2 separate regions of the Homo sapiens genome follow, and region 2 is linked to region 1. Evidence: fine-mapped expression QTL. A gene starts in region 1. The other region holds a variant in brackets. All regions are shown on one strand. Distances are between the middles of the regions.

The links. PIP is the estimated chance that this variant, and not a neighbour inherited with it, causes the effect.
Region 2: its variant is the best candidate, but not a certain one, in a credible set for the expression of LINC02982 in tibial nerve (GTEx, PIP 0.63).

What each region holds. Positions count from the first base shown.
Region 1 is chr5:994,658-999,182 of GRCh38, forward strand. It overlaps LINC02982 (long intergenic non-protein coding RNA 2982), which reads right to left and starts at 2,683. Exons shown (of 2, transcript NR_104615.1): 1 at 2,614-2,683. It overlaps LOC124900932 (a long non-coding RNA gene), which reads right to left. Exons shown (of 2, transcript XR_007058677.1): 2 at 2,987-4,525. RefSeq lists an enhancer at 116-616.
Region 2 is chr5:870,402-874,401 of GRCh38, forward strand. BRD9 (bromodomain containing 9) reads right to left here. Exons shown (of 16, transcript NM_023924.5): 13 at 1,125-1,163; 14 at 72-174. Among named protein-coding and RNA genes, the nearest start is that of BRD9, 20 kb to the right of the region's middle. The variant C/T (reference allele first, on the strand shown) is at 1,651.

The DNA of each region.
Region 1 (4,525 bases):
ACCCATGGTGAGGGCCCCCCACATAGAGCGCTTCCACATCTCAGCCAGCTGGGAGCCCACAGTGTCCATGCCCAGGCCCCATGCAGTGTTCAGAGTCCATGCAGAGTGCTGCCCATTGGGTGGGCCTGAGGCTCCAGGAAACAGACATGACAGCCCATGGGCAGGTGGCCTTCTGGTCAACAGCCATGAGGAGGCCTCAAGAGAAAGCTGCCTGGCAACCTCTTTCATCTGGGACAACTGGTCTGGCCCAACTGAGAAACAGCCTGGACTTCAGGCTGCCTCCTGCCAGTGGCTCCGTGGGTACCAGAGGCCAGGGGTGCTCCATCCTTTTTCCTGGGAGGGGTGAGTTGGGCCAGCCAGCCTCACTGTGGCCGCCTGGTGGGGCTGCAGGCCTGCCCCTTCCACCTCCCCACAGCCTTCTGGAGGGAAACACTAAGAAGAAGGCCGCTTCCTACACCATGTCCCACTGGCCTGGGGGACTTCAAACCCGGAAGCTAGTGTGGCCACAATCTCCTTTTGCAGCCCAAGAGTTGGAGACTGGTTTCTAAGGAGACAGTCAGTGCCTGGGTTGGTGGCAGGTGGGCTGTCTGCAGGAGGAAACCTCAGTGGGCCTGGGCCTGCCTGCAGGAGGGCATTGTTGGGAAGGCTACGGAAGACTCTCAGAGCCTACATCTCCATTCAGGGGCAACTCCATCCACCCTCATCGCCCCCTCTCCACCTGGCTGTCCTTACCTCCAGCCGGACACCAAGCCAGCTCTGCTGCAGGTGCAAAGGGGCCACCTGCCCCAGCCCAGCTTCCACATGTGAATGTCCTGTGCTCTAGACAGCCAGGACCTGCTGCCACCTGCTTGCTGGGGCGGTGAGCACCCTCAGGCATACCTGTTCATCACCCACAGATGCCCAGCCCTGTGCTTACCCCACAGCACATGCACACAATGCCCCCTGGATGCCACAAATCGTTTCTAGCAGCAAATGAGTCAGAAGGGAATGGACCCAAAGTCTAGACCCCACTCCACCCCCATCCTGCTGAGGTTGTGAGCTCCAGGGGAGCAGAGGCAGCTAAGGACACGGGCCATGGCTGGTCCCTGGCAACCTTGTAGCACCACCTGGTGACCCAGCAGTGAGCAGGGTGCTTGAAACACCACTGGGCAGGTATCACTCACACCTACACCGTGGAGCAGCCCATTCCAATGGCAAAGATTCCCGATTACACTATTAAATAAGAAAAGAATGTACTTTTTTTCTTTTACTACATAGAGATGTTAAGCTTCTATAAATCAAAAAACAGGGCCAGGCATGGTGGCTCATGCCTGTAATCCCAGCATGTTGGGAGGCCAAGGTGGGTGGATCACCTGAGGTCGAGAGTTCAAGACCAGGCTGGCCAACATGGTGAAACCCTATCTCTACTCAAAACACAAAAAATTAGCCGGGCGTGGTGGCATGTGCCTGTAGTCCCAGCTGCTTGGGAGGCTGAGAGAGGAGAATGGCTTGAACTCAGGAGGCAGAGGTTGCAGTGAGCCGAGACTGCGCCACTGCACTCCAGCCTGCACAACAGAGCGAGACTCCCATCACACACACACACAAAAAAAATCAAAAACCAGATAAATGTAATAGCAAACTGGGTGAATGTTTGCAGCAAAATTACAGAGAAAACATATCCTTCACAGAGGAAAAGCTCTTACTAATCAAGAAAACAACACCATAATGGAAAGAGAAATATAACTGTAGACATTCAACGTAGATGTCAACCTTGCCCATGACCAAGGAAACAAACACTGAAACCATCATGAGACTTTGTTTTTCAGTTTGCTACAGTTTGGAAAGGAAACGAGCTTGCCCCTGTGTGGCTGGTGGGCATGTGGGCATGTGGGCTGGCAACAGCTTTCTGAGCGGCTGCACCTCTAAGAACAAAAGCAGTTCCATCCTCTTCCAGGGAAGAGGAATGTTTCAGGAATCACTTAGAAACATAAACAGGAATTTGTGAAGGAGGCCACCCAATACAATGTTACCTGCAATGGCAAACTAAAAGCAATGTAGCTGCTTGATGGGAAGAAATGGTGAAACCCATGTCCCTACATTTGTACCTTCAAGGACCAGGCAGAAGGGTAAAGTGCACTTTTAAAGAATATTTGAACATTGAGAAATAAAAATACAATCCCAAGACCTCCAACTGACTAAATGAACCCCTTCTTGGCCAAGGGGACTCCAGAGAAACCTTAAACACTGGGTTCCAAGCCATGAAGGGATGAAATGCCAGACAGACCTCATTATGCCCCCTCCCTCACTAACCGCTGCCATTGAGTTTCTTTCCTAAGGGTAAACAGAAAGCCCTTTTGAAAGATTTGCCAGACTCCCCACCCCTCGTGTAGTTTTGACACAACAACCAGCCAGCATTCCTTCCTGATAACAGATCCTGACTGTGGACTGGTTCTAGCTGGTGTAGAGGCTGCACACAGGATGCCTCTGTGTCCTTCATTTCACCTTTTGACCTACAGAGCCTCATTTCAATGCACTTAAATGTGAAGTCTCCACCCCAAAGTGAACACAGGACACATGTAACACACATGTGAGCTCACTGTGCATGCGTGCCCCTCACCCTTGTAGAGTACTCACAGTGCCTCCTGTAGCCTCTCAGCCACCACGGTCAGCACATTCCTGTCTCATCCTCCCCACCCTCAAAGTGCCTGCTTCCGGTTTAGGGTGGAGGCCACACCTCCCAGCCTGTGGATGGTTACTTGCAGGCTGCAACTCTTTAGAGAAATAAAGCTCTCCCTTCCATGTTTATGAATCTCATGAATCTTCAGTTGACAACATATAAAGAAATGAGCATGAAATGATTTTCAGTAAAATAAGTAGGAAACAAAACTGCAGATAATTAGGTGATTATCTTGGGAGATGGGAATCTGTGGGGGGGGGAGGGAATTTTTATTTTTCTCTTCACATTTTTCCACATTTTTCTAATTTTTTTACAATGATCATACAGCACTTTCATAACAAAAAATAATAAACATTTTATTTCACAAAACTATAACCTGGAAAAAGTGATAAATGTCTATAAGTGAATATTCCATAGCGGTAAGAATGGATGAGGCATTTTTATCCACAAGGCAGATCTTCAGAACATGAGGCACTGCTACTGGTACTGGGCATGGCTTTGGCTGCTCTCCCAGTGGGGGTCTGAGGTGGCCCTGGGCCATCTGCCCTCACCTGGCTCTGGGGCAACAGGGGCAGGGGTGGGAGAGGCATCAGGTCTGGGAAAAGGCACAGTCCACGGGCTCCACTGGATCAAGGCAGTGCCCTCCACTCCATCGGGCCTGAGTGGAGATGGCCTCACTGGCTTAGCTCTGCCCAAGCAAATCCACCCTCGTGTTGCCTCCAAGGCATCCGCCAGGTCCTCACCTCACCCCCTGCCCCAATTACTTATGTTCTTCTTTTTATCAGAAAAACATTCGATGTGGCCATATTTTCAATAATAGCTTGAGTCAGTCTCACTTGGTTGTGATAACTCAGAAGACTGGTGATCAGAGAGAAAGAGGAAAAGGGGGACGGGGGAGAAGGGGAAGAGTGAGGGACGGGGGAGGGAGGGAAGAGGGAGGGAGGGAGAGAAGAGCAGGACGGTGGGAGGAGGTTTCTTGGCATGCTTCCTGCTGGTTCAGACCCAGTCCAAGTTTCCTGAACCCATGTTCTGGAATGTCTGGCGCTGCCACAAGATGAGGAGGAGACCCAGCCACAGGCGTGAGGACATGGGTGCATCCTCCTCATGGCCGACCCGAGTTCCCACCAGGCACAGGACTTCGTTAACAGAAGCAGCTTCTCAGGCAAATCACACAGCACCCCCAGCCCCTGCTGAAGTGCCTCCTCCTCTCCAGCTCACCCAAGGAGCCGGAGCTTTGGCTGCACTGGTGCTGGGGGCGGCTTCACCCCGTGAGGGTGCCACTCCATGGGCCACTGGGAGGTTGTTGTGCAGTCCTGGCCAGTTTACAGAACAGAGATCCAAACTTTCACCTAATATATAAGACAGGAACCATTTTCATTTGACCAGAGAGGGCCTCAGGGGGATCCTGGCCCTCAGCTCCCAGGAAGAGGTCCTCTCCCCGCAGCATCCATGGGAAGTGCCTTCAGTTGCTCCAGTTCTTCACCCCTCTCTGTATCTGCCCTATGTCTGCAGCTTGGCAGGGTGTTTGCTGCTTACATTTTGAGACTCTCGGAAACAAACTGTGCCTTCTAAACACACAGTGGAATCTGACACCAATGATGCAGTCCAGAATGCTTTCTTCCCCTGGTGACAAACTTTCCGAGTATCTTACATTAGTTTAGTGGGGCCTTCCAGCAGCTGTCCCAACTCAGAGACAGACCTGCAGGCCCATGGGCCAAGACAGAGCCCTTCCCCACCAACCTTGACCTTGGATGAAAAGCATCATCCCTGTTTGCTGGAAGTGTGTAGTAGGATGACGGATGTGTTGGCAGAGCCAGGCCCATGCTGTCCAGGGAGGCATCAATGCTTTGCGGTGTCCAGACAGTTTAC
Region 2 (4,000 bases), 120 kb before region 1:
GGAGGCCGTGTGTTTTCTTCCTCTATCACACCTTCACCAGGTGCTGTGGGAAAGTGCCTGTTACAACTCACCCAGAGAGCTGAGCATGGAGATATCCACAGAAACGTCGGGATAGGACTTCATCGACATGAACTCCAGAACAGAGCTGCTGCTGTCTCCTAGGGTGTCCCCAACCTGTGGAGACAGACACACATCAAGAGCAATTCAAACATCAAACGAAAAACGAAATGTTACTTCACACTCGCTATTGAAATCACTCTAATTATTTGCTAAACGTGAACCCACCCCTCAGTAAGTGACAAGACCAAGCCCTGTTCACTGAGGCTGCTGTTCAAGGGACTGTCAGGTTGGAGCTCATGAATGGATATGCAAATCCATGTCAAAGAAAAACCTACTGAGACCAACAACGCAAACTAACAATCCTTTGTTAACTTTTTGGGGCTAAAGAAATTGGGGAGGGACATTATGCAACAGGAAGACACACAGAATTTTAGGGTCCAGGACTATTTCTCAGGCACTTCACAGAGCACACAACGTTCCCTTTCCTTTCCCAGCAAGGCGTGTCCTCAGGGCTAGACTACAGCCACCCTAACACATACTCTCTCATCAGCTCCCTGCAGCTCGGCCTCTGCCCTCAAACAGATGTTAAGGGGTCTCTCCAGGTTCCCAGGGACCCTGGACCAAAGCCCAAGCCCATGCCTGCTGACTGTCAGAGACACACACCTGCCAATCGGCAGGTGCAGCAGTCTGGGCTCACAGCACTGCCCTGCCAGCACTGGCCCCAGAGCCCACTGTGCTTGGGACAACACCTGCTACTCACCAAGCAGGTCCTGAGAAGGCCCATCCTGCCCAACCCTTGCAAGGGTGTCCCACAAGGACAGCACCCAGCGGGGCCAACTGCTCTGAAACTACCCATTTCTGGATTTGGAAGAATGTACTGCGGCTTCACACCACTCACCTCAAGTCATGAAAAGAGGAGGAGAAACACTATTGATCTTACTGATCAGAAACGGACTCCATTTCTAAACGCCGTCATACACACAGACCTCCCCACCTCAAAGGCTGGATACAACTTTCCCTGTGAGAATAATATTTGGCTTGCCCTTCCATGTTCAAAAACTTACCTTGGCTTCATCTGGAGGCTTCATGGGAACATTTCTTCTCTGAAAAGTAAATGAGGACAGAAACTAGTTTTTCCAGAGTGATTTCATAGAAACGGACAATTCGCTGACATTACACACACGTAAAAATGGCTTGTGCGCTTCTGCGAATTCTGCTCCCCAGTCACACCATCTTAATGGATTAAGGCTGGGGGTCCTCCAAACCTTCTTCATCACCAGTCACTGACCCAACCACGCCCAGCCCCCTCCTCAGCGCCAGGATTGTGTGCCGGGGACAGCGCTCCACAGGGCGAGATGGAGCGGACAGAGAGAGGACGCCGATGCTGTTTCGGCAGCCTTGGGTGGCTTAAAACAAAAGAAAAAAGATGTGCCTAGATCCTATGGGAAGCTTAGGATAAGAAGGGTCTCGTGGGTTCCACCTGGAATATGACCAGTTGCCTGAGACCAGCTCGAGTCCTGCAGGGGCAGGTGTGTGCAGGAGCAAAGGAGGCAGACACCTCCTGGCAGTGCCTGTGGCAGGTGGGCCTGC[C/T]GTGGGCGCAGGAGCGAAGGAGGCAGACACCTCCTGGCGGTGCCTGCAGCAGGTGGGCCGGGCCGTGCATTGTCTCCTTCCACAACTGTCGGCCTCCGTGGCACACCCGTCCTGTGCTCCGGTGGAGCGATGCTGTAGTATATGCACTCTATCATGTGTGATCTTTGTTCGAAATAATGTTTCTCAGATTCAATGACATCGATTTTCACAAGCTTTTAATTAGAAAATGAATACTGCTGTTTTGTTCGCATCTGTTTCCCCAAAAGCCTTCAGTCACTTTAGTCCTGAGCATCATTTACTGCGGGGGTGCACTCGGGGTCACTCAACTCCATATCCAAGTTCACTTTCCCGAAAGGAATCTAACTGGAACCCAGAGAGGAAACCACAGAGCCTTCCCATTTCCGGGCTGTGAGGGGGTCACTTTCCCTACCCCACAGCAATGCCTGATTCTAACGCTGTGTTGGGGGGGCCAGCTTCCTGCCTGGAAGGAGCCTGCAGGCCACGACACGGGAGGGTGACCAGAGCTCAGAGTCAGAACCACGAGCTGGTGGGGCAGGCTCTGCAGAGGGGGCTGCTCCTCAGAGCTGCAGAAATCTGCTTGGGGACTCCCGCCTGGCTGCAACCCTCTCTTCAGGGGCCTGCGAGCCCTCCAAGCATGGAAATCAAGGAAAATCTTGAGTTCCTTCAAGGGAAATTCCAGTTACTTAGATAACTCTGAGAAGTAAATCAGCGACTTGATAAGCAAGAAGGTAACAGTATCCTAAAACAACAGTCAAGGAAGGTGGAGACAGATGTTTGTTCCCTGTAGAAAGTAAAGACAACCTCCCAGCACTGTTCCCTGTAGAAAGAAAAGACAACATCCTACCACTCTGGGAGGCTGAGATGGATGCATCATTTGAGGTCAGGAGTTAAAGACCAGCCTGGCCAACATGGCGAAACTCCGCCTCTACTAAAAATACAAAAATTAGCCAGGTGTGGTGGCGCATGCCTGTAATCCCAGCTACTCGGGAGGCTGAGGCAGGAGAATCGCTAGAATCAGGGAGGCAGAGGTTGCAGTGAGCCACAATCACGCCACTGCACTCCAGCCTGGGTGACAGAGTGAGACTCTATGTCTCAAAAAGAAAAAAAAAGAAAGAAAGTAAAGATAACATCTTAATGTATATCCCTGAGTTGTCTTTCAGAAACCTGGACCCTCCACCTAGGACCTCCCCAACAAACTAATCTACTGGCATGAAGGGCTCAGATAAGGAGAAACTGAAGACTGAGCTCTGACCCCGTTCTTTGTTCTGAATTTCTTCCTGACGGGCCTGGAGGAAGCCACACCCACAAGCCTAAGCTAACATTCTTTTCTCTTCACCCCAAATTTTTAAACAAAGCTTCTCCTCCTTAACCAGCTGCAAATCAGAAAACCTTTGAATCCACCTATAACCTATAAGGCCCTGCTTGCAGATACCGCCCTTCTAGGCCAAGCCGACATGTAACCTCTGTGTCCTTATGCACGACTCTGCCTTTCAGTTCTGCTTTCCTGAGATCTACCCCCGCTTTACAAGCCTTGCCTGTAGCCAGTGGGGGAGGCCAGGATTTATACATGAGCCTCCTGGCCCACCTTGCTTGGCGCCCTGCAAATACACACGTCCTTTCTATGACAAAACCTCGGCATGGGTGTCTGGGTTTACTGCACCAGGCATGTGGACCCCAGTTCATCTGTAACAAGCACAGATGAAACCGTCAGGTCAAGGGACTGACCCCTCCTTGGGAGCCATGAGCCAAACGTTCTCAGAGCCTGGGAAGGACAGAGACTCATCCGAACTCCACCCACAGCAGAGACCACGCTGAAAAGACAGGGCTCCCCGAAGGGCCACTCCTTAGCATTAAGGCTACACGAACCCTAGAATAAGGCTGCCCTGGACCCACCCCAGACAAGCCTGGTAGGATCCGGCCATTATCCACAAGTAACAACTGCCAAAATGATCATCAGTATTCTCTGAAAGAGAGAAAGAACCCAGATCAGCCTTGCCCAGCAGACATAACGCGAGCACACGCCTCGTTCTAAATGTTTTTTTATCTTTTTTTTGAGACAGGGTCTTGCTCTATTGCCTAGAGTGCGGTGGTGCAATCGCACTGCAGCCTCGACCTCCCGGCCTCAAGTGATCCTCCCACCTTAGCCTCCTGTGGAGCTGATGACAGGTGCATGCCACCATACCCAGCTCTTAAAATTCTAGCTGCCACATTAAAATTACTCTTAACATTCAATTAACTAATGCATTTTACTTAGACAAATTTATTGAAGATGTTTTTATTCCAACATGTGGGCCATAAGAAATCGTTACTCATATTTTTACGTTTTTTG